Linked DNA regions of Homo sapiens: region 2 is linked to region 1. The links come from fine-mapping of genetic effects on gene expression. A gene starts in region 1. The other region holds a variant in brackets. All regions are shown on one strand. Distances are from middle to middle.

Region 1 (15,974 bases):
GAATGAAGACATGATGGCCAGAGCCTCTTAGACCTCGATGCAACACTAGGAAGAGAAGCTGTGCCCAGGAGAACAAAACAGAAGCGGCTTAGGTCCCCGAGCTAACTGGTTACCTCTTGGCTTTTCTGTGGCTAAGAAATAAACATCTATCTTGTTTAAGCCACTGACGGATGCTCTAGGTTTGTTAGAGCCAAAGCTGATTGTCCATGTGACATCCTTTCACATGTGGAAGAGGAAATGGGCTCAGGGAGGCAGTCACTTGCCCACGTCACACTATAGATAAGTGGGATCGCTAGAATTTGAACCCAGAGCCCCATGACTCCCAAATTCTAAGGACTAACCATGATGGGATCTCACCTCCTGGCTGTGTTGCCTTGGGCAAGTCACCTCACCTTTCTTTTTTGAGACAGGGTCTCACTCTGTCACCCAGGTTCCAGTGCAGTGGTGCAATCACAGCTCACTGTAGCCCCACCCTCCCAGGTCTCATCTTGCCTCAGCCTCCCAAGTAGCTGGGACCACAGGCGCATGCCACCAAACCTGGCTAATTTTTTTTTATTATTTTTTGCAGAGATGGGGTCTTGCTATGCCTCATCTTTTTGAACCTCTATTTCTGCATGATAAGGCGCAGGTGAAAAGCTTAGAGAGGTTAAGGGTCAGAGACTGGGTTATAGTGCCAGCTCTGCCCTCATGCTATGTGACTGTAAGCCACGTATCTCCGTGCTCCAGTTTTGTCCTCTGTAAAATGGAAATAGTAAGAACCACCTCCTAGTCTTGGGTGTGGCTTTGATGAAGCGGAGACACAAGCCAAGTAGTTAGCACAGTGGTTACCACAGAACTGCCCAACAGCGTTAGCTGTTATCGTGGCATCACCTTTAACACAGGCATGATCAATACCTACCTCGCAGGCCTGTTCAGAGGACTACTATGCCAAGCTGGTGAGCACTGGGTCTGGCGCACCATGGGCCCTTAATAAATGGCAGCTAGGCTGGGTGTGGTGGCTCACGCCTATAATCCCAGCGCTTTGGGAAGCCAAGGCAGGCGGATCACTTGCAGTCAGGAGTTTGAGACCAGCCTGGCCAATATGGTGAAACCCTGTCTCTACTAAAAATACAAAAATTAGCCGGGCGTGGTGGTGGGCACCTATAGTCTCAGCTGCTTGGGAGGCTAAGGCAGGAGAATTGCTTGAACCCGGGAGGCGGAGGTTGCACTGAGCCGAGATCGTGCCACTGCACTCCAGCCTGGGCGACAGAGCCAGACTCCATCTCAAAAAAAAAAAAGGTAGCTATTCATTCCTGAGTGCTGTGTTCCTAGGCCACTTCTGGGGCCTCAACTATGACCAACAGAGACCCAGGCCTTGCCTTGATGATCACATCTTTCTGACACTATCGGAGATGAGTTCTCCCTTTAGCCCCGTGGTTCCTTCCTGGGTGGCAGAGGTAAGCAAGGAGCTCTCAGAGCTTCCTCTTCTCTGCTGAGTGGAAGTAAGAGCGGTCTCTGTCTCACAGGTGACTGTGGGGATTCAAAAAAAATCCTGCATCTCTCACATGGCCTGGGGGTGCCTGCGAAGGATCAATTAAATGGTTAATTACTATTGTTAATATTGTTTTATTCATCTATTCTTTCAAACCATATTTGATGGACCCAACCCTAGGGTACAAACGTGACCCAAATATAATTAGTCCCCAGTCTCACAGAGCTGGGTATGTGCATATACGTATGAATGGAAAAAATTTTTTTTTTTTTTTTTTTTTTTGGGACGGAGTCTCGCTCTGTCGCCCAGGCTGGAGTGCAGTGGCACTATCTCGGCTCACTGCAAGCTCTGTCTCCCGGGTTCATGCCATTCTCCTGCCTCAGCCTCCCGAGTAGCTGGGAGTACAGGTGCCCACCACCACGCCCAGCTAATTTTTTGTATTTGTAGTAGAGACGGGACACACACACACACACACACACACACACACACACACACACAAAGTATTCCTTATCTGAAGTGCTTGGGATCAGAGGTGCTTCAGATTTTTTCAGATTTTGGAATATTTGTCTATTCATAATGAGATATCTTAGGGATGGCACCCAAGTCCAAAGACCAAATTCATTTATACTTTATAAGCACAGCCTGAAGGTAATTGTATACAATATTTTAAATAATTTTGTGCATGAAACAAAGTTTGTGTAAAGTACTTATATGTGAAACTTTCCACTTATAGTGGGGCATCATGTCAGTATGCAGAAAGTTTCAGATTTTGGAGCTAGCCGGGCGTGGTGGCTCACGCCTGTAATCCCAGCACTTTGGGAGGCCGAGGCAAGCAAATCACTTGAGGTCGGGAGTTCAAGACTAGCCTGACCAACATGGTGAAACCCTGTCTCTACCAAAAGTGCAAAAATTAGCCAGGCATAGTGGCACATGCCTGTAATTCCAGCTACTCAGGAGGTTGAGTGAGGCAGGAGAATAGCTTGAACCTGGGGGGTGGACGTTACAGTGAGCTGACATCATGCCACTGCACTCCAGCCTGGGCGACTAAGCAAGACTCTGCCTCAAAAAAAAAAAAAGATTTTGGAGCATTTCGGATTTTGAATTAGGGATGTTCAACCTGTGTATGCGTATGTGTGTGCGTGTGTGTATACATACATACACACACATATATATATATATATAAATTTTTTTTTTGAGATGGAGTCTCACTCTGTTGCCCAGGCTGGAGAGCAATGCAACCTATGCCTCCCGGGTTCAAGCAATTCTCCTGCCTCAGCCTCCCGAGTAGCTGGGATTACCATTTACTCCTGTATTACTGCCCCAGCCTCTTCCCTGGTCTGCTGGCCTCCAGTCCTGGCTCCTCCAGTCTGTCCTCCCTAGAAGAGTCCAGGAGGCCTTTCTAAAGCACAAAACTGACCCTGTCCCTTCATTGCTCAGAGCACCTCTATGGCTCCTAAGTGCCCTTGAGAGAAAGCCCAGGCTCCTCACCACCTCCAGCTAATTTCTGTATTTTTAGTAGAGACGAGGTTTCATCATGTTAGCCAGGCTGGTCTCAAACTCTTGACCTGAGGTGATCCACCTGCCTTGGCCCCCAAAATGCTGGGATTACAGGCGTGAGCCACCACACCAGGCCCATGTATGTGTATCTTAAGTGTGTTAAATTCCACAAAGGGGAAGGAAAGGGAGCTATGATTATGGCATTTTTAGAGGACACCTGACTGAGCTTGGGAAACAAGACTTCTCTGAGGACTGAGATCTGACAGATAAGCAGTAGTTAACCAGGTATGGGAAGAGCTCATACAAAGGTCCTGTGGCTGGGGAGCGCTTGGGTCAGTGGAGGAATAGCAAGGAGGCCAAAATGACTTGTGCAAAGGAACAAGGCAGAGTGTGGGGTGGTGTGAGTCTGGAGGAAGGGCAAAGGCCAGGCCATGCAGGACCCTAAAGGCCACAGTGAGGAGCCTGGGCTTTCTCTCAAGGGCACTTAGGAGGCATAGAGGTGCTCTGAGCAACGAAGGGACAGGGTCAGTTTTGTGCTTTAGAAAGGCCTCTTGGACTCTTCTAGGAAGGACAGACTGGAGGAGCCAGGACTGGAGGCCAGCAGACCAGGGAGGAGGCTGGGGCAGTAATACAGGAATAACTGGGAAAGGTCTATATAAATGTCATCTGACAGGAACACTGAACCTAGAAAACAGGTGCCATTTCAAGCTGGGATCCCAAGGATACACAGGAGTTAAATAGGTGAGGGGGGGTAATATAGGCCAAAGCCCTGTGGTGGCAGAAATAGAAGGCCAGTGGAGCTGTCCGAGTATGAAGCTGAGTGGTCAGACCACAAGGGTCTTTTAGGCCAGGGATAGTTTGGTCTTCCCCGCAAAAACAACTGAAGCATCAGACAGGAGAGGGAAGTGGTCAGGTTTCACTTAATATTCACTCCTTTTTTTTTGAGACAGTCTTTTTTTTTTTTTTTTTGAGACAGAGTCTCGCTGTCGCCCAGGCTGGAGTGCAATGGTGCTATCTCAGCTCACTGCAGGCTCCGCTCTGCCCCCCTCCCCGGTTCACACCATTCTCCTGCCTCAGCCTCCCGAGTAGCTGGGACTACAGGCACCCGCCACCTCACCTGGCTAATTTTTTGTATTTTAATAGAGATGGGGTTTCACCGTGTTAGCCAGGACGGTCTCGATCTCTTGACCTTGTGATCTGTCCACCTCGGCCTCCCAAAGTGCTGGGATTACAGGCGTTGAGTCTTGCTCTGTCACCCAGGCTGGAGTTCAGTGGCACAATCTCCATGCACTACAGCCTCCTCCTCCCGGGCTCAAGCAATTCTCGTGCGTCAGCCTCCCAAGTAGCTGGGACTACATGCACACACCACTAAGCCTGGCTAATTTTTGTATCTTTAGTAGAGATGGGGTTTCACCCTTTTGGCCAGGCTGGTCTCGAACTCGTGACCTCAGGTGATCCACTTGGGATTACAGGCGTGAGCCACTGTGCCAGGCCAACTTAATACTCACTCCTATTGTGTGCCAAGCCAAATCTCAAGAGTGGCTGAGCTCTTCTGGGAATGGGGAACACAGCAATAAGCGAAACAGACATTCTGGAGGTGGCCAGTCTAACGTCAGGACTGCTCTGAGGGTTACAGAGACTTCCCTTTTTCTTGCTAACACCGGATCGGCACTGGGAGGCCACACCAAACGACACAGTATGCTACAACAAACAGAAGCCCTTGGGATCCCACCAATGATTATCCTCAAGAAAAGATTAATGAATATACTCCTGAGGAAATGAGCCTCTTGTCTTGACATACTTCCAAGCCCAGATTTTACCAGGATGACCAGCTGTGCCCCCCAACCCAGGGTCCCTCACCCCAGACAAAAGGCCAGTTACTCACGATCTTTTCATAATACTCCCGTCTCCGCTCCGCCCTCTTCTTGTAGTCGACCATCATGCCTCGAAGCTTCCGCTCATGCTTCCGAGCCTCGTGCCACATTGTGGTGAGGCCAAGCCTGGGGCCTCAACCTGAGGGATGAAGGGACCAGGAAAGTCAGATGGTCTGTGAAACCCGTATGGGCAGAATCAAAGTCATCTAACAAGTTGGTGGCAGAGTCGATCCCAAACAACACATCTCTTAGCTTCAGGGAGCAGAAGTGAAGCTGCAGAACAGTATGCCAGATGTTCAAGTCCATCCCTAACAACTTCGATCTAGAAGCTTGGGCATTCTGAAAAACCCTCAGGTGATTCTGAGGTGAGCATCACTGGGAAAGGGGTGTCCTAGATTCCACGCGCTGGAGTCGGGAATGAAAGGTTTTGAAACATCAGCAGTGTTTGAAGTAGGGTCAGAAGGCAAACCCTGAGCACTTAAGGCTGGAGCTCAAGAGAAAGAGAAGAACTGAAAAGGCTCCCACTAGGGGCCATGCGTGGGGTTGGGTATGAGTCTGGGTGGTAGAGGGATAAGGAGAATAAGGATGAAGGCAGGTGGAGGAAATCGGAGAAAGCTTTTAAGGGAACAGTGCAGTTGTATGAAGGTGGAGGTCGAGGACAGGTGAAGGGCGTGGCGGAAGATGAAGATGCTAGAGGGAGTGGGAACACGGGGAGGGAGTGTTGCAAGGAGACCAGAGTGAAGCTGAGGTCTAAAGATGGGATCTAGATGGCGGGGTGGGGAGAGCATCCAAAGAAAAAGAGCGTAGAGCCTGAGAGAGGCGGAGCTGGCTGACAGGAGGGCGTGGGCTGAGCTTGGGGGCAGGGCTTGCGGGAAAGGGCGGAGACCGAAGGTTTGGACGGGGCTTGTGGATCGCGTCGCGGCCTGAGGATTTGGGCTGGGTTTTTTTTTTGTTGTTTTTTTTTTTGACAAGGGGGCGGGGCCTGTGATAAGCTGCTGGGCCGAAGGCCGAGTTCGACGCGGCAACTTCTGGCCCACAGCCGGGGCACGGGCTCGGCCTGAGGCCCGTCAGGCCTAATGGGGTGAGGGACGAGCGATCCTCGGGGCCGGGACGCAGCAGAAGCCCACAGCAGCATGGGGAGAGCCTGAGGAAAGGGAGAAGCTGGGCTGAGGCCTGCCCGAAAACCGGGAGGTCGAGCCGCAGCCTGCACTCACCGGCTGGTCGCCGCCTCCCACCGCTGCGCTCGCGCGCGGCCCGCACCGGAAGCGGAAATGAAAGGCCGCGCTAGGGGGAGGGGGCGGAGCATGGTGGAGGGCCGCGCAGCGCACTTCCGCCGACGAGAGAGGCGGGTCCTAGAGTCGAGAGGGGCGGGATCCCGAGGAAGAAGTGGGAGAGCGGAGAAGGGAAGAGCTTGGATGCTTTATCTTTTTATCTTTTTTATTTTATTTATTTATTTAATTTTATTTTTTTGAGACGGAGTCTCTCTTTGTCTCCCAGGCTAGAAGGCAGTGGCGCGATCTAGGCTCACTGCAACCTTTGCCTCCTGGGTTTCAGCTATTCTCCCACCTCAGCCTCCCGAGTAGCTGGGACTACAAGCGCGCGCCACCAAGCCCGGCTAATTTTTGTATTTTTAGTAGAGATGGGGTTTCACCATTTTGGTTAGGCTGGTCTCAAACTCCTGACCTCAGGTGATCCACCTGCCTCGGCCTCCCAAAGTGCTGGGATTACAGCCATGAGCCACCATGCCCGGTCTCATTTTTTATTTTCATTTTCATTTTTTATTTTTTTGAGACACAGCCTCGCGCTGTCGCCCAAGCTGGAGTGCAGTGGTGCGGTCTTGGCTCACTGCAACGTCCACCTCCTGGGCTCAAGCGATCCTCCCACCTCAGCCTCTAGAGTAGCTGGGATTACAGGCGCGCAGCACCACGCCCGGCTAATTTTTGTATTTTTTGTAGAGACTAGGTTTCGTCATGTTGCCCAGGCTGGTCTCAAACTCGTGAGCTCAAGCGATCCTCCTGCTTTGGCCTCCCAAAGTGCTGGGATGACAGGCCTGAGCCCCCAGCCTGGAGGCTTTCTTTGCTACTAAGGGACTAGGGCGTTTCCCAAGCCCAGAACAGACGAAACCCCGGAGGCTCAAAAACTCATCTTTATTGGGAAGACTCTGAACAACCAACCTACCCCCCACCTTCAAGTCTGGGGAGGGAGGGCCAGGAATCTGCCCCCTCCTCCCATATGTACAATCTTTTCCGAATCCTACTGGAGAAGGTGCCCCCACATGTGGGGACAGAGGCAGCTGTAACAAGCTAGTGCACGGGAGCCATGTCCCTTTTCCTCTCCGGACTCAGTTTCCTCATCTGTAAAATGGGCTCAAGGGGAAACCCGTGCAACGGAGCTTCTCGCCAAGGCTGAATATGTCCACTTCAGAAGCATGAGGAAGGGCCAAGGGGATGGGGGTGCTAGACATCCTGGTTGGGATTGCACGGCTCCTCCACCTCCCTCCCCACCCAGTGCCCCTCCTCTGGCATCGCGGGGCTACGTGGCTTCAGGCCCCGGGGATAGGAGGCCGCCCCCAAAGGCCGCCTCGCGGTAATGATTGGGGAACATGTTGCTGCCCACAAGGCTGGCGGTGCCTCCATCCCCGGGGCCCGGGGCCTGGTACGAGTCCAGTGTCAGTGGTTCAGGGCCGGGGGTCTCCCCAACCACGGCCCCGGCACCTCCGCTGCACACAACAGCGCTAGCGTGTGGCGGTGCCGGGGGCAGCAGGTCCAGCATGGTGAAGAGTGTGGGGGCCGTAGGGTCGTAGGCAAAGCCATCGTCCAGGAGGTCAGGCCCGCCAGGGGGCTCCAGGCCGGGCAGGGACACGGTGCCAGAGAAGAAGTCAGGGTCTGGCAGCAGGGCTGACGGCGGGAGGAACGGGCCTACGGGGATGAAGACAAGAGAAGTGTAGTGTGATTTAGGGCTAACTTCTGATCAGGCCCTAAATCAAATGCCCTACTCCCTGCAAAATGTGATATCAAGGTGGCCTTTTTTTTTTTTTTTCTGAGATGGAGTCTCATTCTGTCACCCTGGCTGGAGTGCAATGACGTGCTCTTGGCTCACTGCAACCTCTGCCTCCCCAGTTCAAGTTGATTCCCCTGCCTCAGTCTCCTGAGTAGCTGGAACTACAGGCCAGGCATGTGCCATGCCCAGCTAATTCTTATCTTTTTAGTAGAGACGGGGTTTCACCATGTTTGCCAGGCTGGTCTCGAACTCCTGACCTCAGGTGATCCACCTGCTTCGGCCTCCCAAAGTGCTGGGATTACAGGTGTGAGCCACCAAGCCTGGCCTTAGGTGCCCTCTTAATCCCAAGGAGAATCCGTGTGGGACTATCACCATTCTCAGATAATAAGTAAATTGAAGGCCAAGCGTGGTGGTTCACACCTGTAATCCCAGCACAACGTGACGAGACCCTGTCTCTACAAAAAAATTATTTAAAAGTTAGCTGGGTGTGGTGGTGCCCGCCTGTAGTCCCAGCTACCTGGCAGTCTGAGGCAGGAGGATTGCTTGAGCCCAGTTTGAGGCTGCAGCGAAGTATGATCACACCACTGCACTCCAGCCTGGGCAACAGAGCAAGACCTTATCTCTAAAAATAATTAATAATAAGTAAACTAAGGCACTGAGGGAAAGTAAATGGAAGGCTCACACAGCTGTTGTGGAACTGGGGTTGAAACCATGCTCCTACACAGCTGTGGAGAGTTTTCCCTGAGAGTGAGAAAGGAGAAGAGGTTCCAAAGCCCCCCAACATACAGAGACAACCCAAAAAGTGAAATCTCCAGACCATGGGAGACACAAGTTGGGAAGTCACCAGTCCCAAAATTGTCAGAAAAAATAAATGTCATTCTCAGGCATAATGGGGACTTAAGAAAAAATAACAATCAAATCAAAAAGTTTCATTATAAGAGGGATTCTCAGGCCAGGCATGGTGGCTCACGCCTGTAATCCCAGCACTTTGGCAGGCCGAGGCGGGCAGATTACCTGAGGTCAGAAGTTCAAGACCAGCCCGGCCAACATGGCGAAACCCCTTCTCTCCCAAAAATACAAAAATTAGCAGGGCATGGTGGTGGGCACCTGTAATCCCAGCTACTCAGGAGGCTGAGGCAGGAGAATCACTTGAACCTGGGAGGTGGACATTGCAGTGAGCTGAGATTGTGCCACTGCACTCCAGCCTAGGCAACAGGGCAAGACTATCTCAAAAAAAAAGAGGGACTCTCTTTTTGGAACAAGACAAACCTTAGAGACACAAGGGACTATTTTCTAGCCTTCCTTGCAGCCTGATGTGATCATGTGACTAAGGTCTGCTAACTGGAACGTGGGCGTAATGGCTGGAGCTACAACAGCCACCTTGCACCATGAGTTGGCGAACTGAAAATGGCAGAAGCCTCGGTCTCTCGATGATCATGCAGTCACCAGACCATCCCTGGAACACCTACCTATGGACTGTTTTTTGTTTCTTGTTTTTGAGACGGAGTCTTGCTCTGTTGACAGGCTGGAACACAGTGGCACCATCTTGGCTCACTGCAGCCTCCACCTTTTGGGTTCAAATGATTCTCCTGCCTCAGCCTCCCAAGTAGCTGGGACTACAGGCATGTGCCACCACATCCAGCTAATTTTTGTGTTTTTAGTAGAGATGGAGTTTCACCATGTTGGCCAGGATGGTCTCTCTCTCTTCACCTCGTGATCTACCTGCCTTGGCCTCCCAAAGTGCTGGGATTACAGGCGTAAGCCACAGTGCCAGGCCTGTTTTGTTGTTGTTGTTGTTGTTGTTTTGAGAAGGGTCTCATTCTGTTGCTCAGGCTAAAGTGCAGTGGTGCAATCTTGGCTCACTGCAACCTTCACCTCCTGGGTTCAAGTGATTTGTCTGCCTCAGCCTCCAAGTAGCTGGGACTACAGGTGTGCACCACCACACTCGGCTAATTTTTGTATTTTTAGTAGAAACAGGGTTTTACCACGTTGGCCAGGCTGGTCTCAAACTCCTGGACTGAAGCAGTCCACCTGCCTCAGCCTCCCAAAGTGCTGAGATTACAGGCATGAGCCACTTTCAGTCCCTACAGACTATGTATGTGAGACAAGAAATAACGTTCTATCCTGTTGAAGCCCCTGTTATTTTGGGTTTTGCTGTAAATGCAGTTAAATGTGATCATAGGTGGGATGCAGTGGCTCATGCCTGTAATCCCAGCACTTTGGGAGGCTGAGGCAAGCAGATCACCTGAGGTCAGGAGTTCAGGACCAGCCTGGCCAATGTGGTAAAACACCGTCTCTACTAAAAAATACAAAAATTAGCCAGGTGTGGTGGTGTATGCCTTTAGTCCCAGCTACTTGGGAGCCTGAAGCAGGAGAATCGCTTGAACTCAGGAGGCAGAAGTTGCAGTGAGCTGAGATCATGCCACTGCACTGCAGTCTGGGCGACAGAGCGAGACTCCATCTCCAAAAAAAAAAAAAAAGAAAGAAGAAATAGATCAAATTTTAAAACACCACTGAGCTAAGTATGTACTGGGCCTTTTCAAAGGAGTCCCTGAGGCTCTGAGAGGTAGAACAACTTAATGAAGTTCACATAGCAAGGAAATGGCCCAGAAGAGATCAGAACTTCCATTCTGTCTCCAAAGCCCTCATTCTTTCTACTCTATGTTGCTGGCTAAGTGCTGAGTGACTCGCCTTGTGGCTGCTCTTGGAGGGCGTGAAGAGGCCAGAAAAGCAGGGCTGCCACTTACCCTCTGCCCACCCAGGGGACAGGGGCTTATGTGTAGCTGGGACCCACCTGAGCCGTGGTTGGGCAGGAAGTGGTCCAGGATGGCCGGCTTTTTCTTCCGCCGTTTGCTCTCGATGCCATGGGGGTCTGAGGGAAGGCAGAGATGAGGACCCCTGTTCCCCGACAGCCCTTCCTCCCCAGCCTGGGGTGGGACAGGGCAGTGGGGTCAGCTGTCCCCTCCCCAGAACCTGGGGATGGGGGTGGAAAGGGGCAGAGGGCACACACCAGAGCTGTTCAGCTCCCCAAGGACGTCGGGCATCCCCCGTTTCCGCTTCTTGTCCACGCCGTAGCTGTCTGTTAAGGAGATACCAGGGACACACAAGAAGTAATTCATCAATAATAATTAATTCCTTTATTTATTTATTTATTTATTTATTTTTAGAGACAGTCTTGCTCTGTTGACCAGGCTGGAGTGCAGTGGCACGGTCTTGGCTCACTGCAACCTCTGCCTGCCAGGTTCAAGTGATTCTCCTGCCTCAGCTTCCCAAGTAGGAGGGATTACAGGTGTGCGCCACCACGCCCAGCTAATTTTTGTATTTTTTTAGTAGAGATGGGATTTCACTATATGTTGGCCAGTCTGGTCTTGAACTCCTGACCTCAAGTGATCTGCCTGCCTTGGCCTCCCGAAGTGTTGGGATTACAGGTGTGAGCTGCTGTGCCAGGCCTATTTTTTTTTTTTTTAAAGATGGAGTCTTGGCTGGGCGTGGTGGCTCACTCCTGCAATCCCAGCACTTTGGGAGGCTGAAGTGGGCGGATCACCTGAGGTCAGGAGTCCGAGACCAGCCTGACCAACACGGCGAAACCCGGTCTCTACTAAAAATACTAAAATTAGCCGGGCATGGTGGCGGGTGCCTGTAGTGAGTCTTGCTCTGTTGCCCAGGCTGGAGTGCAATGGCACAATCTTGGCTCACTGCAACCTCTGCCTCCCGGGTTCAAGCAATTCTCCTGCCTCAGCCTCCCGAGTAGCTGGGACTATAGGCGCCCACCACCACGCCCGGCTAATTTTTGTATTTTTAGTAGAGACGGGGTTTCGCCATGTTGTTCAGGCTGGTCTCGAACTCCTAACCTCAGGTGATCCGCCTGCCTCAGCCTCCCACAGTGCTGTGATTACAGGCATGAGCCACTGCGCCCGGCCTACACACTGGCCTCTTTGTTGTTCCTGGAGCACCCCAGGCACAATCCGGCCTCAGGACCTTTGCACCTGCTGTTCCAGCTGTTTAAAGCACTCTTCCTCCACTCTCACTATTTCCCTAGAAAACTTCCCTGCTTAGTCATCCTCCTGTCCTCAGCTCAGCTGTCCCCTCCTCCAAGAAGCATTCCCTGACACCTACAGCTGGGTCAGGTACCCCCTCTGGGCAATGTGAGCCCTTGAGCACTTCATTCCAGTCCTGCCCACTCTGGTCATCACTCTGTAGGGACAGGCTGTCCCCTATCCTCAGGACTATAAGCCTCATGAGGACACAGCTAGGGGCCGTGCTGGTCACTGCTGTGTCTCTAGCAATACCGAGCACAGGCCCGGGCATGTGCAGGATGCTGAGGGGAGGAAAGATTAAATACTCTCCAAATGTCACAGGACAGCTACTATTATTTCCATTTTGCACAGAAGAATGAGGCTCAGAGAGGCCAAGGTCACACAACCAGTAAGCAGCAGAGCCAGGATCTGAACACTGTCTTTGTAGCTCTGAGCCTGCATTCTAGTTCTGCCTCTTTCCCATCCCCACTGGGGTCTCCCCAAGGCCAAAGACCTAGTCTCCGAGGTGGTGGGTCACCCTGGGTTGCTGTAGTTACCATGGTCGCGAGGCAGGTACGTGAAAGGCAATGGCTCGCTGCAGACCCCATCGGTGAGCCGCTGCAGGAAGACGTTGACTGTCACGGGCTCGACAATCTCCAGGTCCTCGTAGGGCGGCGTCTTGAACACAATGGCAATCTGGCGGTGCACGTCGGCCTGGGAGAAGTCAGCCCGACCTTCCCAGGAGGCCCTGCTGAACACCACTGATATGTCCTCTGGCAGGAAACGGGGGACATCAGCTAAGCCAGGACATCTGGACCACTGTGCTCCCAACTTGCCCAGCCTCCCCTAAAATCAAGACTAATATTCCCCCTTTTTAAAATTTTTTTTTTTTGAGAGTCTTGCTCTGTTGCCCAGGCTGGAGTGCAATGGCGCGATCTCAGCTCACTGCAACCTCTGCCTCCCGGGTTCAAGCAATTCTCCTGCCTCAGCCTCCGGAATAGCTGGGATTACAGGCATATGCCACCACGCCCGGCTAATTTTATTTTTGGTTTTTTTTTGTTTGTGTGTTTTTGAGATGGAGTCTCACTCTGCCTCCAGGCTGAAGTGCAGTGGCATGATCTCGGCTCACTGCAACCTCCAACTCCCTGGTTCAAGTAATTCTCCTGCCTCAGTCTCCCGAGTAGCTGGGATTATAGGCATGTGCAACCACGCCCAGCTAATGTTTGTATTTTTAATAGAGACGGGGTTTCACCACGTTGGCCAGGATGGTCTCGCTCTCCTGACCTCGTGATCTGCCCGCCTTGGCCTCCCAAAGTGCTGGGATTACAGATGTAAGCCACCAAACCCGGCCTTGTTTTATGTATTTTTATATATATTATCTCATTTAATCCTTATAACAATTTAAGAGGTAGGTAGAATTAATATCCCCCTTGCCAGGCACGGTGGCTCACGCCCATAATCCCAGCACTTTGGGAGGCCGAGGCAGGCGGATCACGAGGTCAGGAGATCGAGACTACCCCGGCTAACATGGTGAAACCCCGTCTCTACTAAAAATACAAAAAAATTAGCCGGGCATGGTGGCAGGCGCCTGTAGTCCCAGCTACTCAGGAGGCTGAGGCAGGAGAATGGCGTGAACCCGGGAGGCGGAGCTTGCAGTGAGCCAAGATCGCACCACTGCACTCCAGCCTGGGGGACAGAGCAAGACTCCGCCTCAAACAAACAAACAAAAGAATTAATATCCCCCTCATGTCCAGGGATCCTCAAGATCACCCTCAGGTGGTTCAGTAAGAGGACTCACAAGACAGCATACAGTCATACTCACAGCTATGATCTGTTATGGCAAAAGGATACCAGGCACAGTCAGCAGAGAAAAAAGGTGCCTGTCCAGGCATAGTGGCCCACACCTGTAATCCCAGCCCTTTGGGAGGCTAAAGCTGGCAGATCACTTGAGGCCAGGAGTTCAAGACCAGACTGGCCAACACAGCAAGACCTTGTCTCTACAAGAAAATTAAAAAATTAGCCAGGCATGGTGGCGCACGCCTGTGGTCCCAGCTATTTAAGAGACAGAGCGAGAGCCTGGTTCTTAAAAAAAAAAACAAAAACGGAAACTGAGGCTTGAAAGTGTTGAGACATCACACAACTGGTAGCGGAAGAGTCAGGATTCATGATGCTACTCTGCCTGCTATTTATTTTTCTTGTCTTACTGCATCGCCCGTCATCACAGTACCTCCATGTACTGAGACTTTATATGTGTCAGTTACATATAGATTGCCTCTAAGTCACACAACAACTCTATGAAGAAGGTACTATTAGGTACCGTATTGTATAAAGACGAAAATGAAGGCACAGAGAGGTGAAGTCACTTGTCCAAGGTCACACAGCTGGCAAGTGTTAGAGCCAAGATGGAAACCCAGGAAGGCTAGAACTCTTCACTACCAACTCTGTTATAACTTGGGGAAGTTACTAGATATCTCTGGAACCAGTTTCTTCACTTTACTTTATTCTATTTTGAGACAGAGTCTCGCTCTATTGCCCAGGCTGCAGTGCGGTGGCACCATCATAGCTCACTGTAACCTCCAACTCCTGCACTTAAGCAATCCTCCTACCTCAGCCTCCCAAGTGCTGGGACTACAGGCACATGCCCCAACATGCCTGGCTATTTTATTTCATTTTTTGAGACAGAGTCTCACTGTGTTGCCCAGGCTGGTGTGCAATGGCATGATCTCGGCTCACTGCAACCTCTGCCTCCCAGGTTCAAGTGATTCTCGTGCCTCAGCCTCCCAAGTAGCTGGAATTACAGGTGTGTTCCACCACACCCAGCTAATTTTTATATTTTTAGTAGAGACAGGGTTTCACCATGTTGGCCATGCTGGTTTTGAACTCCTGACCATAAGTGATTCGCCCACCTTGGCCTCCCAAAGTATTGGGATTACAGGTGTGAGCCACCACAGCCGGCCTAATGCCTGGCTATTTTTTAATTAAAAAGAACTTTTTTTTGTAGAGATGGGGGCTTGCTATGTTGCCCAGACTGGACTCAAACTCCTGGGCTCAAGTGATCCTCCCACCTCAGCCTCCCAAAGTGCTAGAATTACAGGCATGAGCCACCAGCCCAGCCGGTTTGTTTTTGGTTTTGATTTTTTGAGACAGGGTCTGTCTCTGTCGCCCTGGCTGGAGAGCAGTGGTGCAATCTTGGCTCACTGCAGCCTCCGCCTCCCGGGCTCAAGTGATCCTCCCACCTCAGCCTCTCAAGTAACTGGGACTACAGGTGCACACTACCACACCTGCTAAATTTTTTATTTTTTGTAGAGACAGGGTTTCACCATGTTGCCCAGGCTGGTCTCGAACTCCTGAGTTCAAGTGATCTGCCCGCCTCAGCCTCCAAAACTGTGCTAGGATTACAGGCATGAGCTGCTGTGCCCAGCTGTCTTTTTCTTTTCTTTCTTTTTTTCTTTTTTTTGAGACAGAGCTTTGCTCTGTGGCCCAGGCTGGAGTGCAGAGGCGTGATCTCGGCTCACTGAAACCTCTGCCTCCCAGGTTCAAGCGATTCTCCTGCCTCAGCCTCCCGAGTAGCTGGGATTACAGGTGTATGCCACCACAACCAGCTCATTTTTGTGTTTTTTAGTAGAGATGGGGTTTCACCATGTTGGGAGGCTGGTGTCGAACTCCTGACCTCAGGTGATCCGCCCACCTTGGCCTCCCAAAGTGCTGGGATTGCAGGCATGAGCCACTGCGCCCAGCCCTCATTTTTGTATTTTTAGTAGATATGGGTTTTCACCATGTTGCCCAGGCTGGTCTCGAACTCCTGAGCTCAAGTGATCCACCCACCTCAGCCTCCCAAATTGCTGGGATTACAGGCTTGAGCCACGGTGACCAGCTGTCTTTTTTTTTTAAAAGCCTGTTTGAGGAAGGGCCATTTGAACAGAGATGAATGAAGTGGAGTTGCTTCTCCTGTCCTATTTGCTTTACCCATAGCGCTTATCAGAACCACCGTAAAGCGTTCATTTATGCAATTCCACCCTTAACATCAGAGTCCTCTGGACATGTCGTGAGCTCTGTGATGGCACCGCCTAGCTTGCAGCATGGGTCACCACAGACGAGTCTCTGTCGTCCTACGCA
Region 2 (15,974 bases), 110 kb after region 1:
TGGACTGAGATGGTGCCACTGTACTCCAGCCTGGGCAACAGAGTGAGACTCCGCCTCAAAAAACAAAAAAACAAAAAATCTGACTTGAGTTCTAACAGGCTGCTGAGTGAGAAGAAAGGAGAGTATAGGAGTTTGGAGGGTTGATTTTGGGGGAGAAGGGAATGCATTAACCCCAGAGAGTAATATTTATAATTTATTTATTCTCTTTCTTTCTTCTTTTTTTGGTAGAGACGGTGTCTCACCATGTTACCCAGGCTGGTCTTGAACTCCTGACCTCAACTGATCCTCCCATCTCAGCCTTCCAAAGTGCTGGGATTACAGGCATAAGACACTATGCCCAGGTTCAGGATTTCCTTTTTTTTTTTTTTTTTTCTCCTGAGACACAGTCTCACTCTGTCATCCAGGCTGGAATGCATGGCGCAATATTGGCTCACTGCAAGCTCTGCCTCCCGGGTTCACGCCATTCTCCTGCCTCAGCCTCCCGAATAGCTGGGACTATAGGCGCCCGCCACCATGCCCAGCTAATTTTTTGTATTTTTAGTAGAGACAGTGTTTCACCATGTTAGCCAGGATGGTCTCGATCTCCTGACCTTGTGATCCACCTGCCTCGGCCTCCCAAAGTGCTGGGATTACAGGCGTGAGTCACTGCGCTCGGCCCAGGATTTCCTTTTATGTTTTGAGATGGAGTCTTGCTCTGACGCCCAGGCTGGAGTGCAGTGGCATGATCTCAGCTCACTGCAGTCTCTACCTCCTGGTTCAAGCTATTCTCACGCCTCAGCCTCCCAAGTAGCTGGGATTACAGGCACACGCCACCATGCCTGGCTAATGTTTGCATTTTTAGTAGAGATAGGGTTTCACCATGTTGGACAGGATAGTCTCCAACTCCTGGCCTCGAGTGATCCTCCTGCCTTGGCATCCCAAAGTGCTGGGATTACAGGTGGGAGCCACCGAGCCTGGCTTCAGGAGTTCCTTTTTTTATTTTTTGAGATGGAGTTTTGTTCTTGTCGCCCAGGCTGGAGTGCAACGGCACGATCTCTGCTCAGTGCAGCCTCCGCCTCCTGGGTTCCAGTGATTCTCCTGCCTCAGCCTCTTGAGTAGCTGGGTTTACAGGCACCCGCCACCATGCCTGGCTGATTTTTTTTGTATTTTTAGTAGATACGGGGTTTCACCATGTTGGCCAGGATGGTCTCCAACTCCTGGCCTCAAGTGATCCTCCTGCCTCGACCTCCGAAAGTGCTGGGATAACATGTGTGAGCCACAGAGCCCGGCCTCAGGGTTTCCTTTTTAAGGATGCTTTACATTCCATTGCACGTATAGACCACATTTCCTTGACCCATTCATCTGTTGATAAACATTTAGGTTGTTTCCATATCTTGGGTATTAAGCAGACCTGCAGTGAACATGGGAGGGCAGGTATCTCTTCAAGGTCCTGATTTCAATTCTTTTGAATAAATACCCAGAAATGAGATTGCAGGATCATTTGGTAGTTCTATTTTTAATGTTTTGAGGAAACCCCATACTGTTTTCCACAGTGGCTGCAGTGTTTGGTGTTCCCACTCGCATTGTAGGAGTCCCTTATATATTTTGAATATTAACCCCTTATTAGATATATGGCTTTCAAATATTGTTCTTATGCAATCTTAAGCTGGGCGCAGTGGCTCACACCTGTAGTCCCAACACTTTGGGATGCCAAGGCGGGCGGATCACTTGATGTCAGGAGTTCGAGACTAGCCTGGCCAACATGGTGAAACTCTGTCTCTACTAAAAATACAACAAAAGTAGCCAGGTGTGGTGGCACATGCCTGTAATCCCAGCTACTTAGGAGGCTAAGGCAAAAAAATCACTTGAATTTGGGAGGCAGAGGTTGCAGTGAGTGGAGATCGCATCATTGCACTTCAGCCTGGGTGACAGAGCCAGACTCCATCTCAAAAAAAATTTTTTTTTTACATAGGGTTGTTTTGCATGTGCATGTGGTTTAATTTTACGTAAGAGCTGGGCACAGTGGCTCACGCCTGTAATCCCACCACTTTGGGAGGCCAAGGCAGGAGGACTGCTTGAATCCAGGAGTTGGAGACCAGACTGGCCAGCACGATAAAATGCTGTCTCTACTAAAAATACAAAAATTAGCTGGGTGTGGTGGCACACACCTGTAATCCCAGATACTAGGGAGGCTAAGGCAGGAGAATCTGTTGAACCCAGGAGGCGGAGGTTGCAGTGAGCCGAGATCATGCCCCTGCACTCCAGCCTGGGGTACAGAGTGAGACTCTGTCTCAAGAAAAAAAAAAAAAGGCCAGGCGAGGTGGCTCATGCCTGTAATCCCTGCACTTTGGGAGGCCATGGCAGGCAGATCATGTGAAGTCAGGAGTTCAAGACCAGCCTGATCAACATGGAGAAACCTCGTCTCTACTAAAAATACAAAAATTAACCAGGCATGGTGGCACGCACCTGCAATCCCAGCTACTTGGGAGGCTGAGGCAGGAGACTCCCTTGAACCTGGGAGGCGGAGGTTGCAGTGAACTGAGATGGTGCCATTGTACTCCAGCCTGGGCAAGAGGAGCGAAACTCTGTTTCAAAACAAAACAAAACAAAACAAAAAACCTCAGCCCCTCATCTCGGGTAGACCACACTAGGAAAAGTGTAGCATAGTGACATTGCCTGGCTGAGGGTTCAATCTAGTTCCAGTTCTCCACTTCCTGGCTGTGTGACCTTATACAAGTAGCCTCACCTCTCTGGGCCTCAATGCCCTTATGGGATTATTAAGTCCCAGTTTGCAAGGTTCTTAGGAAGATTCTTTTGAGACCATAGAGTTAAAACATCCTTAGCACAGGGCAAGTAGATGGGGCATTGGAGGGCTTGTGAGGAGTCCGTAAGGTTCAGCCCCTGCCCTCTCCCACAGCCCCTACCCTCTCCGGCACCCCTGCCCCACAGTGAAGAAGCAGTCAGACAGAATTTTCTTTTCTTTTTTTTTTTTGACGCGGAGTCTGGCTCTTGTCACCCAGGCTGCAGTGCAGTGGCACGATCTCAGCTCACTGCAAGCTCCACCTCCCGGTTTCAAGCGATTCTCCTGCCTCAGCCTCCCGAATAGCTGGGACTACAGGCGCCTGCCACCACGCTTGGCTATTTTTTTTGTATTTTTAGTAGAGACGGGGTTTCACCGTGTTAGCCAGGATGGGCTCAATCTCCTGACCTTGTGATCCGCCCGCCTCAGCCTCCCAAAGTGCTGGGATTACAGGCGTCAGCCACCATGCCTGGCCAGAGAGAATTTTCCATAGGATTTTTATTGGTCACACCTGGGCGTGTGACCACATTGGACACACATGGAGGGCGTCCTCAGTACAGGCGCTGGGGTGTTGGAAATTTCAGAGGCCCCTCCTGGGATGTCACCCTTCAGGTCCTCATGAGTCAGTCTTGAGTTTCTCCTTCACTTTCCGAAATGTCTCTGAAAACCAATCCCTGTGGGGAGGAATAAGGAAGGGGGTCACTGTGTGCAGCTACCTCCCAGGCTGTTCAAATTCTACCTGCTACCTGACTCCCACCTCTTCCCCTTGCTGAATCTCCATCCCCACTGTCTGTGGGATTAGGAGGACCGCTGGGCTGGGTGGGCCAACTTCTGTGCCTCAGTTTCCCAGGTGGACCAAAGCACGTTGAAGTCTAAACACTTTACCCTTGGCTGGGCATTTGGCTCACGCCTGTAATCCCAACACTTTGGGAAGCCGAGGCAGGCAGATCACTGGAGGTCAGGAGTTCGAGACCAGCCTGGCCAACATGGCAAAACCCCGTCTTTACTAAATTACAAAAATTAGCCACCCGTGGTGGTGCACGCCTGTAATCCCAGCTACTCAGGAGGCTGAGGCAGGAGAATTGCTTGAACCTGGGAGGTGGAGAGTGCAATGAGCTGAGATCACACCACCGTGTTCCAGCCTAGGCAACAGAGCGTGACTCCGTCTCAAAAGAAAAGAAAAGAAAAGAAAACTTCACTCTGGCCTGGCTTTCAAGGCCTGCCATCTCTTGCTACCCACTCTTTCTTCCAGCCTGCCCTTGCCCTATCTGTTCCCCTACTCATTCAAAGGTACTTTCCAGCCTCCCTGCGTATGCCCAGGCTGTTCCCCTGCCTGGGATGCCACCCGCTCTTGCTTATTGATCGACCTTCTTGACTTTGGACCTTTGCCTCTCCCTCCAAACAATCAATCTTTCTTTCTTTCTTTCTTTTTTTGAGACGGAGTTATGCCCTTGTTGCCCAGGCTGGAGTGCAATGGCGCGATCTCAGCTCACCGCAACCTCCAGCTCCCAGGTTCAAGCAATTCTCCTGCCTCATCATCCTGAGTAGCTGGGATTACAGGCATGCACCACCATGCCTGGCTAATTTTTTGTATTTTTTTTTTAGAAGAGACAGGGTTTCTCCTTGTTGGTCAGGCTGGTCTCAAACTCCTGACCTCAGGTGATCTGCCCGCCTCAGCCTGCCAAAGTGCTGGGATTACAGGCATGAGCCACTGCACCTGGCCTCCAAACAATCTTTCTAAGTTTAGGCCTGACTAGATTTTCCCTCCCTCCCTCCCTCCCTTCCTTCTTTCTTTCTTTCTTTCTTTCTTTTTTTTTTGGATGAGACAGGGTCTCATTCTGTTACCCAGGCTGGAATGCAGTGGCACAAACATAGCTCACTGCAGCCTCAACCTCCTGGGCTCAAGTGATCCTCTTGCCTCCGTCTCCGAAGTAGCTGGGACTACAGGTGTGTGCCATCACGCCTGGGTAATTTTTTGTATTTCTAGTAGAGATGGGGTTCTCAAACTCCTGACCTCAAGTGATCCACTCACCTCAGCCTTCCAAAGTGCTGGGATTACAGGTGTGAGCCACCGCGCTCGGCATATTCTTCACTGTTTTATTCCCCACATTGAAACAGTTTCTAGCACTTAGCAGATGCTCAATAAATATGTGTTGAGGAACGAATGACTCTCTAACTTGCCAAAGGGAGCAAGTGTGGATTTGAAGATGTACTGAGCATTTACAATGTGCCAGACACCCTATAGGCCTTCTGCTTTACTTCCCCACAGAACCACCATTTCACAGGAAAGGAAACTGAGGCTCACAGTAATGCCTCTCTCTTAAGATCACACAGGGAGTAAGGGGCTCTATGCCAGCCTGGGGACTCAGGTCCCACCAAGCTTGTGTCCTTCATTACCCCACAAGACCATCTTTTTTTTTTTCAATTTTTTTTTTTTTTTTTGAGACGTGGATTCGCTCTTATTGCCCAGGCTGGAGTGCAATGGCATTATCTCAGCTCACTGCAACCTCCGCCTCCCAGGTTCAAGTGATTCTCCTGCCTCAGCCTCCCAAGTAGCTGGGAATAGAGGCATGCACCACCATGCCTGACTAATTTTGTATTTTTAATAGAGACGGAGTTTCTCCATGTTGGTCAGGCTGGTCTCAAACTCCCAACCTCAGGTGATCTGCCCAACTTGGCCTCGAACCCCCGATCTCAGGTAATCTGCCCGACTCAGCCTCCCAAAGTGCTGGGATTACAGGCATGAGCTATCGCACCGGGGCTGGCTTGTATGCTTTTTGTTTTGTTTTGTTTTGTTTTGTTTTTTAAATAGAGACAGGATCACCGGGCATGGTGGCTCACACCTGTAATCCCAGCACTTTGGGAGGCTGAGGCGGGTGGATCACAAGGTCAGGAGTTCAAGACCAGCTTGGCCAAGATGGTGAAACCCCATCTCTACTAAAAATACAAAAAAATTAGCCGGGCGTGGTGGTGGGCGCCTGTAATCCTAGCTACTCAGGAGACTGAGGCAGAGAATTGCTTGAACTGGGGAGGCAGAGGTTGCAGTGAGCCGAGATGGCGCCACTGCACTCCAGCCTGGGCAACAGAGCGAGACTCTGTCTCAAAAAAAAAAAAAAAAAAATAGAGACAGGATCTCGCCATGTTAGCCAGGCTGGTCTCAAACTCCTAGGCTCCAGCAATCCTCCCACAGTGCTGGGATTACAGGTGTGAGCCACCGTACCTAAGCAAAACCATCTTTTTTTTTTTTCTTTTGTGACGGAATGTTGCTTTGTTGCCCAGGCTGGAGTGCAGTGGTGCAATCTTGGCTCACTGTAACCCCCACCTTACTGGTGCAAGCAATTCCCCTGCCTCAGCCTCCCGAGTAGCTGGGATTACAGGTGCACACCCCCATGTCAGGCTAATTTTTTGTACTTTTAGTAGAGACAGGGTTTCACCATGTTGGCCAGGCTGGTCTTGAACTCCTGATCTCAGGCAATCCGCCCGCCTAGGCCTCCCAAAGTGTTAGGATTATAGGTGTGAGCCACGGCGCCCAGCCCAAGACCATCTTTTAAAATGTGGCCTGGATGGGAGTCCGGGAAACTGTCCCTGACGTCTGAGATCCTTGAGATCTAGCTGTGTGACCAGAAGGATGCTGTCAGCCTCTCTGGGACTTGTTTTTTTTTTCAATCTGTTCATCTTGGACATCCTCCAGGGCTCCACACAAACACACCCCAGCCCTCCCGTGCCCTGGGAAGGGTTCTAACCACATCTTGGCAGGAAGTTCACTCTGTGTGATGCGGTTGATGAATTCCCGAGTGTAGTCCTCCAGGGTCTTTCCTAACTCCTCCAGGCCATCAAAGGGGTTGGAGACTTCTGGAGCCCCCTAGGCTGGGGCTGGGCCTGCCAGGAAGATGAGGCAGGGGTGCAAAATTTGGTTGTTGTTGTTGTTGTTGTTGTAGTTTTGAGACGGAGACTTGCTGTGTCAAATGGTGCGATCTCGGCTTACTGCAACCTCCGCCTCCTAGGTTCAAGCAGTTCTCCTGTCTCAGCCTCCCAAGTAGCCAAGCGCGCACCACAACGCCTGGCTGTTTTGTATTTTTAGTAGAGATGGGGTTTCACCATGTAGGCCAGGCTGGTTTCGAACTCCTGACCTCAAGTGATCTGCCCGCCTCGGCCTCCCAAAGTGCTGGGATTACAGGCATTAGCCGCCACGCCCCACCAAAAATTTGTTATTGGAACCCCCTTGGGGTGGGATCCCGGGGATAGATAAGGAGATCCTTGGGGATCATGTGGTTAGAATGGGGAGGATACTGAAGTGACCGCGTGGGGCTCAAGCCGCTGGGAATTGCCTTACTCAGCACTGACCTCCTCCCACAGCCCATCGCCCCATCACCCACTTTCAAGGCTATAAAAGGAGGACAGCCAATCCCAGAGGTGTGGAGATCCATACGTCATCGGTTACTAGGGCTCTCCTGGGCAGATTTGGCGCCTGCCGGACTGAGCCTGGGCGAACCTGGAGACCCACTCGACCACAATGGGGCAACCACGACCAAGAAGGGGCCCCAGAGCTCTCAGAGGTCCTCTAAGCCGGGACCCCAGGCCTGTAGCCACCTTCACTCTTCCAAATCTCCAACTCCGCAATTCTCCCATCCCACTTTTACCTTCCAAGAC[G/C]ATCGACAGAACCACCACCAGGACCGGGAGCGACAGGAAGAGCCTCATGGCGAGGCCGGAGGGGCACCCTGGAGGCGGAGGCAGGGGTTCAGGGGATCAGTGGCACCCTCCTCCCTCCCTCCCACGATCCCCTCATCTCCCTTTATGAGTTCTTGCAGAGTGGAGGCGGGTGTCCCTCCCAAGCACTCAACAACCTGAATCCTTGCTGGAGGGCTTGGTTGGGAGGTCCTGTCCTGCCCGCAGGACCTTTATCAGGCTGGGGAGGGGGCGGGGCAGGTTGATGTTGATCTCCCTCCTCCTGAGCCTTCCCCTGGAAGATTGCCTCCTTCTGCCCACCCAGGTTTTTCTCCTCTGCCCCTGGCCCGTGGGCGTTGGGGTCAGGTGGGGTCCTGACCATTTCCCTTAGCTCCGAAGCCCTTTACCATTCAGCACCCTCACCTCCCAATCTCCCTGACTCTGGGGGGTCCTCAGACTACCATAGCTCCTTTCCCCACTCAGAGGACAGCCTCGTCCTGTCCCTGTGGCCATCTTCCCTCAGGGGTCTCCCAGTAATAACCCTGTGATCTCATCCCCCCCTCATTCACACCGTGTCCCTAGATCACCTCTTTCCCTCACTTCCCCTCTCTCAGCAAGCCTCCTCAGCCCCAACAACTTTTCCTTTATGTTGCTGGGGCCTCCCAGTTGGCCCCGCAACCCTGCCCTGCGTGCCACCTCCAATTTCTTTCAGACCAGCCCTTGAAACATCCCAGACCACCCTGATATTCTCTGGGCTCTTAACTTGATGATTTTCAGTCTCCCTTTTTTGCAAAGGGAAGGGGTCGCCTTAGCTGGACACTAAAAACCTCACCTGCATTGGCCAGGCATGGTGGCTCATGCCTGTAATCCCAGCGCTTTGGGAAGCTGAGGAAGGAGGATCACTTGAGCCCAGGAGTTAAGAGACCAGCCTGGGCAATATAGGGAGACCTCATCTCTACAAAAAAGTTCAAAAATTAGCTGAGCGTGGTGGCGCACACCTGTAGTCCCAGCTATTCAAGAGGCTGAGGTAGGAAGATTGCTTGAGCCCAGGAGTTCGAGGCTGCAGTGAGCTGTGATTGCGCCACTGCACTCCAGCCTGGTGAGACAGAGTGAGACCCCATCTCAAAAAATTAAAACCTTCAGCTGCAAAGCTCTGAGTGTATGCCCCTTCTTCCCTTCCACCGGGCCTCACCCCCTTTGGCTGGCTACCTCCCCCAAACACTCTATCTGCTCTTATTCACCCTCTGATGCCCCTCCTGGCACCAAGCCTGCTTCCCACCATCACCACATCCGTCCCCCAGGGCTGGAGTCCAATTCCTTCCCCACCAGCTGCCTTTGACCGCCAGTGACCCTGGCAGCTGATGGGGAGGGTGTCCTCAGCCCAGCCTCAGACTCTAGTTCGGCTGGCCTTGTGCCCCCACAACCACGTGTCAGCCTGGCGGTAGGGGGATGGTTGTGAAAGGGACAGCATAGACAAGACCCTGGCAGGATTGCAACATCCCTCTGGCCAGCTCAGAGCTTCCAGTCCCTGTAAGCCCCAGGGGCCCCCCTACTTCCTCAACTGAGCCCAGCATTCCCCAAACATCCACCCAGATGTCTGCTTCCCCGATCCCACAAGAATAGAATAACAATGCTCCTGATTTTCCAACCTCATCCTCCCCTCTGCTATAGGGGTTTCTGTTTAATAGATGGGGAAACTGTCACACAACCAAGAACATCCAGTAGGGCTCAGTGAGGGGCAAAGAGGGGGCTACTGACTGGGCGCAGTGGCTCACACCTATAATCCCACCACTTTGGGAAGCTGAGGCAGGAGGATCTGCTTGAGCCCAGGAGTTTGACACCAGCCTGGGCAACACAGTAAGACCCTATCTCTAGAAAAAAATTAAAAATTTGGCCAGGTGCGGTGGCCCACGCCTGTAATCTGTGCACTTTGGGAGGCCTAGGTGGGTGGATCATTTGAGGTCAGGAGTTCTAGACCAGCCTGACCAACATGGTGAAACCCCGTCCCTGTCAAAAATAGAAAAAATTAGCCGGGTGTGGTGGCACAGGCCTGTAATCCCAGTTACTTGGGAGGCTGAGGCTGACCAACATGGAGAAACCCGTCTCTACTAAAAATAGAAAATTAGCCAGGTGTGGTGGCACATGCTTGTAATCCCAGCTACTTGGGAGGCTGAGGCAGGGGAAGGTTGTGGTGAGATGAGATTGTGTCACTGCACTCCAGCCTGGGCGACAGAGCAAACCTCCATCTCAAAAAACAAAACAAAACAAAACAAAAAAACCAAATGTTTATTTGCCACAAAAACCCTATCAGATGGGCGTCTTTATCATTTCCATTGTACAGATGGGGAAACAGGCTTCGGGGTCGGGGCATAGCCACTTACTGACGACTCCCCACCCAGCAAGTGGTTTTGAACCCGGACCCTCTCACACTACCTAAACCACGCCAGGACAACCTCTGCTCCTCTCCACCGAAATTCCAAGGGGTCGAGTGGATGTTGGAGGTGGCATGGGCCCAGAGAGGTCTCTGACCTCTGCCCCAGCTCCAAGGTCAGCAGGCAGGGAGGGCTGTGTGTTTGCTGTTTGCTGCTTGCAATGTTTGCCCATTTTAGGGACATGAGTAGGCTGAAGTTTGTTCAGTGTGGACTTCAGAGGCAGCACACAAACAGCTGCTGGAGGATGGGAACTGAGGGGTTGGAAGGGGGCAGGGTGAGCCCAGAAACTCCTGTGTGCCTCTGAGCCTGCAGCTCTGTTCTCTAAGTCACCAAGCCCCCAAACCACTCTCATCTCTTTCTCTCCATCCCTGGGTCCTGGCCCTAGTCTGAATCCCATCCCTTCATTCCCCGAATCCCTACGCCCTCCTCCCTGCTAAACTTCTGGTGTCTCTAGCCCCTCCCCTCCTGGCTGGATACTCTGGGTGATGGTAGGAAAGTCTAGGGTAAAAAAGAGTTTGAAATGTCCCTCCTAACGCATGTTGAAAAATTGAATTATGATTCACATTCCATAAAATTTACCCTTTTATTTATTTTTTTGAGGTGGAGTCTCACTCAGTTGCCCAGGCTGGAGTGCGGTGGTGGAATCTAGGCTCACTGTAGCCTCCACCCGCCGGGTTTAAGCGATTCTCATGCCTCAGCCTCCCAAGTAGCTGAGACTACAGGCACCCACCACCACGCCTGGCTAATTTCTTAATTATTTTTTTTTTTTTTGAGACGGAGTTTCGCTCTTGTTGCCCAGGCTGGAGTACGATGGTGTGATGTCGGCTCACCACAACCTCTGCCTCCCGGGTTCAAGCAATTCTCCTGCCTCAACCTCTGGAGTAGCTGGGATTACAGGCATGCGCCACCATACCTGGCTAATTTTTTGTATTTTTAGTAGAGACGGGGTTTCTCCATGTTGGTCAGGCTGGTCTTGAACTCCCAGCCTCAGGTGATCTGCCCGCCTCGGACTCCAAAAGTGCTGGGATTACAGACATGAGCCACCGTGTCCGGCTAAATTTACCCTTTGAAAATGTACTGTTCAGTGGTTTTTCCTATATTGGGAAGGTTGCACGATCATCACCAGTATCTAATTCAGAACATGGCTCACTGCAGCCTCAACCTCCCTGATTCAAAGCCATCCTCCTACCTCAGCCTGCCACGTGGCTGGAACCCCAAGGTGTCCACTACCATGCTCAGCTAATTTTTATTTTTTATTTTTTATTTATTTTTATTTTTAGAACGGATGGGGTCTTGCTATTGCCCAGGCTGATCTTGAACTCCTGAGCTGAAGCAATCCTCCCACCTTGGCATCTCAAAGAGTTAGGATTACAGGCGTGTGCCACCACGTCTGGCAGGGGATGATTTTGGAAGAGAACTGGAGGAAGTGAGGAGGGAGCCAGGCAGATATCTGGACCCCTGGGGAAGAACATTCCAGGCAAGAGGAACAGTAACTGCAAGGGCCCTGAGATGGGAACCTGCCCAGTACATTGGAGGAATAGCAAAGAGTTGCTTGTGAGTGATGGAGAGAGAGACAGGGAGGAGGCGATCGTGGACGGCATAGTGTCCCGTTTGTAGGCCTTGGTAAGTGCTTCTGGGTTTACTCTGAGAGAATCAGGAGAGTTCTGAGCAGAGGAAGAGCATAATCTGACTTGAGGCCGGCCATGGTGGCTCATGCCTGTAACCCCAGCACTTTGGGAGGCCAAGGAGGGCTAATTGCTAGAGCTCAGGAGTTCGAGACCAACCTGGGCAACATGGTGAAACCCCGTCTCTACTACAAATACAAAAATTAGCTGGGTGTGGTGGCACACACACGCCTGTAGTCCCAGCTACTTGGGAGACTGAGCAGGAAAATCGGTTCAACCTGGGAGGCAGAGGTTGCAGTGAGCTGAGATGGTGCCACTGCACAGGCTGGGCAATAGAGTGAGACTCCGTCTCAAAAAACAAAAAACAAAAAATCTGACTTGAGTTCTAACAGGCTGCTGAGTGAGAAGACAGGAGAGTATAGGAGTTTGGAGGGTTGATTTGGGGGAGAAGGGGATGCATTAACCCCAGGGAGTAATATTTATACATTTATTTATTCTCTTTCTTCTTTTTTTGGTAGAGATGGTGTCTCACCATGTTACCCAGGCTGGTCTCGAACTCCTGACCTCAAGTGATCCTCCCACCTCAGCCTTCCAAAGTGCTGGGATTACACGCATAAGCCACTGTGCCCAGTTTCAGGATTTCCTTTTATGTTTTGAGATTGAGTCTTGCTCTGATGCCCCGGCTGGAGTGCAGTGGCATGATCTCGGCTCACTGCAGCCTCCACCTCCTGGGTTCAAGCGATTCTCATGCCTCAGCCTACTGAGTAGCTGGGATTACAGGCGCACGCCTGGCTAATTTTTTGTATTTTTAGTAGAGACGGGGTTTCACCATGTTGGCCAAGATGGTCTCCAACTCCTGGCCTCAAGTGATCCTCCTGCCTTGACCTCCGAAAGTGCTGGGATAACATGCGTGAGCCACATCGTCTGGGATGTGAGGAGCCCCTCTGCCTGGCTGCCCAGTCTGGGAAGTGAGGAGCGTCTCCGTCCGGCCGCCATCCCATCTAGGAAGTGAGGAGCGCCTCTTCCCGGCCGCACATCGTCTGAGATGTGGGGAGCGCCTCTGCCCCGCCGCCCCGTCTGGGATGTGAGGAGCGCCTCTGCCCGGCCGCGACCCCGTCTGGGAGGTGAGGAGCGTCTCTGCCCGGCCACCCCGTCTGAGAAGTGAGGAGACCCTCTGCCTGGCAACCGCCCTGTCTGAGAAGTGAGGAGCCTCTCCGCCCGGCAGCCACCCCGTCCGGGAGGTGAGGGGCGCCTCTGCCCGGCCGCCCCTACTGGGAAGTGAGGAGCCCCTCTGCCCGGCCACCACCCTGTCTGGGAGGTGTGCCCAACAGCTCATTGAGAACCGGCCAGGATGACAATCGCGGCTTTGTGGAATAGAAAGGGGGGAAAAGTTGGGGAAAAGATTGAGAAATCGGATGGTTGCCGTGTCTGTGTAGAAAGAAGTAGACATGGGAGACTTTTCATTTTGTTCTATACTAAGAAAAATTCTTCTGCCTTGGGATCCTGTTGATCTGTGATCTTACCCCCAACCCTGTGCTCTCTGAAACATGTGCTGTGTCCACTCAGGGTTAAATGGATTAAGGGTGGTGCAAGATGTGCTTTGTTAAACAGATGCTTGAAGGCAGCATGCTCGTTAAGAGTCGTCACCACTCCCTAATCTCAAGTACCCAGGGACACAAACACTGCGGAAGGCCTCAGGGTCCTCTGCCTAGGAAAACCAGAGACCTTTGTTCACTTGTTTATCTGCTGACCTTCCCTCCACTATTGTCCTATGACCCTGCCAAATCCCCCTCTGTGAGAAACACCCAAGAATGATCAATAAAAAATAAATAAATAAATAAATAAATAAATAAAATTTAAAAAAAAAAACATGTGTGAGCCACAGAGCCCGGCCTTAGGGTTTCCTTTTTAAGGATGCGTTACATTCCATTACATGTAGAGACCACATTTCCTTGACCCATTCATCTGTTGATAAACATTTAGGTTGTTTCCATATCTTGGGTATTGAGCAGACCTGCAGTGAACATGGGAGGGCAGGTATCTCTTCAAGGTCCTGATTTCAATTCTTTTGAATAAATACCCAGAAGTGGGATTGAAGGATCATTTGAGAGTTCTATCTTTAATGTTTTGAGGAAACCCCATACTGTTTTCCACAGTGGCTGCAGTGTTTGATGTCCCAACTAGGATTGTATATTATACATTTTGAATTTTTTTTTTTTTTGAGATGGAGTCCCACTCTGTCTCCCAGGCTGGAGGGCAGTGGCGCCATCTTGGCTCACTGCAACCTTCGACTCCTGGGTTCAAGGGATTCTCTTGCCTCAGCCTCCCAAGCAGCTGGGATTACAGGCATGTGCCACCCCACCCGGCTAATTTTTTTGTATTTTTAGTAGAGACAGGGTTTCACCATGTTGGCCAGGCAGGTCTCAAACTTTTGACTTCAGGTAATCCGCCCGCCTTGTCTTCCCAAAGTGCTGGGATTACAGGCATGAGCCACTTCACCCAGCCTGAATATTAACCGGTTATTAGATATGTGGCTTACAAATATTTTTCTTATGAAATCTTAAGCTGGGTGCGGTGGCTCACACCTGTAATCCCAGCACTTTGGGAGGCCAGGACGGGTGGATCATTTAAGGCCAGGAGTTTGAGACCAGCCTGGCCAACATGGGGAAATTCCGTCTCTACTAAAAATACAAAAAAATTAGCTGGGCGTGGTGGCACATGCCTATAATCCCAGCTACTCAGGAGGCTGAGGCAGGAGAATCCCTTGAACTCAGGTGGTGGAGGTTGCAAGGCTGCAGTGAATGGAGATTGTGCAACTGCACTCCAGCCTGGGTGACTCCATCTCTTAAAAAAAAAAAAAAAAAGAAAGAAATCTTAATTACATAGGGTTGTTTCTCATGTGTATGTGGTTTAATTTTACATAAGAGCCAGGCACAGTGGCTCACGCCTGTAATTCTAATACTTTGGGAGGCCAAGGCAGGAGGATTGCTTAAGCCCAGGAGTTGGAGACCAGCCTGGCCAACATGATGAAACCCTGTCTCTACTAAAAATACAAAAATTAGCTGGGTGTGGTGGCGCACACCTGTAAATCCCAGCTACTTGGGAGGCTGAGGCAGGATAATCTCTTGAACCTGGGAGGTGGAGGTTGCAGTGAGCTGAGATCGCACCACTGTACTCCATCCTGGGGGAGAGAGTGAGTCTGCCTCAAAACAGAAACAAAAACAAAAAAAAACCTCAGCCCCTCATCTCGGGTAGACCACACTAGGAAAAGTGTAGCATAGTGACATTGCTAGGCTGAGGGTTCAATCTAGTTCCAGTTCTCTACTTCCTGGCTGTGTGACCTTATACAAGTAACTTCACCTCTCTGGGCCTCAATGCCCTTATGGGATTAATAAGGCCCAGTTTGCAGGGTTCTTAGGAAGACTCTTTTGAGACCATGGAGTTAAAACATCCTCAGCACAGGGCAAGTAGATAGGGCATTGGAGGGCTTGTGAGGAGTACCTAAGGTTTAGCCCCTGCCCTCTCCTGCAGACCCTGCCCTCTCTGGAAGCCCCTACCCTCTCCCGCAGCCCCTTCCCCAGAGTAAAGAAGCACTCAGGAGAGAATTTTCTGTAGGATTTTTATTGGTGGCACCTGGGGCCACATGGAGGGAGTCCTCAGCACAGGCGCTGGGGTGTGGGAAATTTCAGAGGCCCCTCCTGGGATGTCACCCTTCAGGTCCTCATGAGTCAATCTTGAGTTTCTCCTTCACTTTCTGAAATGTCTCTGAAAACCACTCCCTGTGGGGAGGAATAAGGAAGGGGGTCACTGTGTGCAGCTACCTCCCAGGCTGTCCAAATTCTGCCTGCTACCTGACTCCCACCTCTTCCCCTTGCAGAATCTCCATCCCCACTGTCTGTGGGATTAGGAGGACCGCTGGGCTGGGTGGGCCAACTTCTGTGCCTCAGTTTCCCAGATGGACCAAAGCACGTTGAAGTCTAAACACTTTACCCTTGGCTGGGCATTTGGCTCACGCCTGTAATCCCAACACTTTGGGAGGCCGAGGTAGGCTGATCACTTGAGGTCAGGAGTTCGAGACCAACCTGGGCAACATGGTGAAATGTCATCTTCACTAAAAATACAAAAAATACCATGTGTGGTGTCACACACCTGTAGTTCCAAGTACTCATGAGGCTGAGGCAGGAGAATTGCCTGAACCCGGGAGGTGGAGGTTCCAGTAAGCCGAGATCGCACCACTGTACTCCAGTCTGGGTACATCTCAAAAAGAAAAAATAAGGCCGGGCGCCGTGGCTCACGCCTGTAATCCCAGCACTTTGGGAGGCCGAGGCGGGTGGATCACCAGGTCAGGAGATCGAGACCATGCTGGCTAAGAATACAAAAAATTCTACTAAGTAAATTCTACATTCTACTAAGAATACAAAAAATTAGCTGGCGTGGTGGCAGGTGCCTGTAGTCCCAGCTACTCGGGAGGGT

The links.
Region 2: its variant is fine-mapped to the expression of CLASRP in esophagus mucosa (GTEx, PIP 0.98).

Annotation. Positions count from the first base shown.
Region 1 is chr19:45,029,191-45,045,164 of GRCh38, reverse strand. CLASRP (CLK4 associating serine/arginine rich protein) reads right to left here and starts at 6,120. Exons shown (of 21, transcript NM_007056.3): 1 at 6,057-6,120; 2 at 4,854-4,981. The coding sequence starts at 4,952. RELB (RELB proto-oncogene, NF-kB subunit) reads right to left here. Exons shown (of 12, transcript NM_006509.4): 9 at 12,416-12,631; 10 at 10,853-10,921; 11 at 10,637-10,714; 12 at 6,973-7,760. The coding sequence ends at 7,375. RefSeq lists an enhancer at 5,577-6,446.
Region 2 is chr19:44,918,479-44,934,452 of GRCh38, reverse strand. It overlaps APOC1 (apolipoprotein C1), which reads right to left. Exons shown (of 4, transcript NM_001645.5): 4 at 15,107-15,280. The coding sequence ends at 15,223. It also overlaps the pseudogene APOC1P1. Among named protein-coding and RNA genes, the nearest start is that of APOC1, 12 kb to the right of the region's middle. RefSeq lists an enhancer at 6,219-7,111. The variant G/C (reference allele first, on the strand shown) is at 7,430.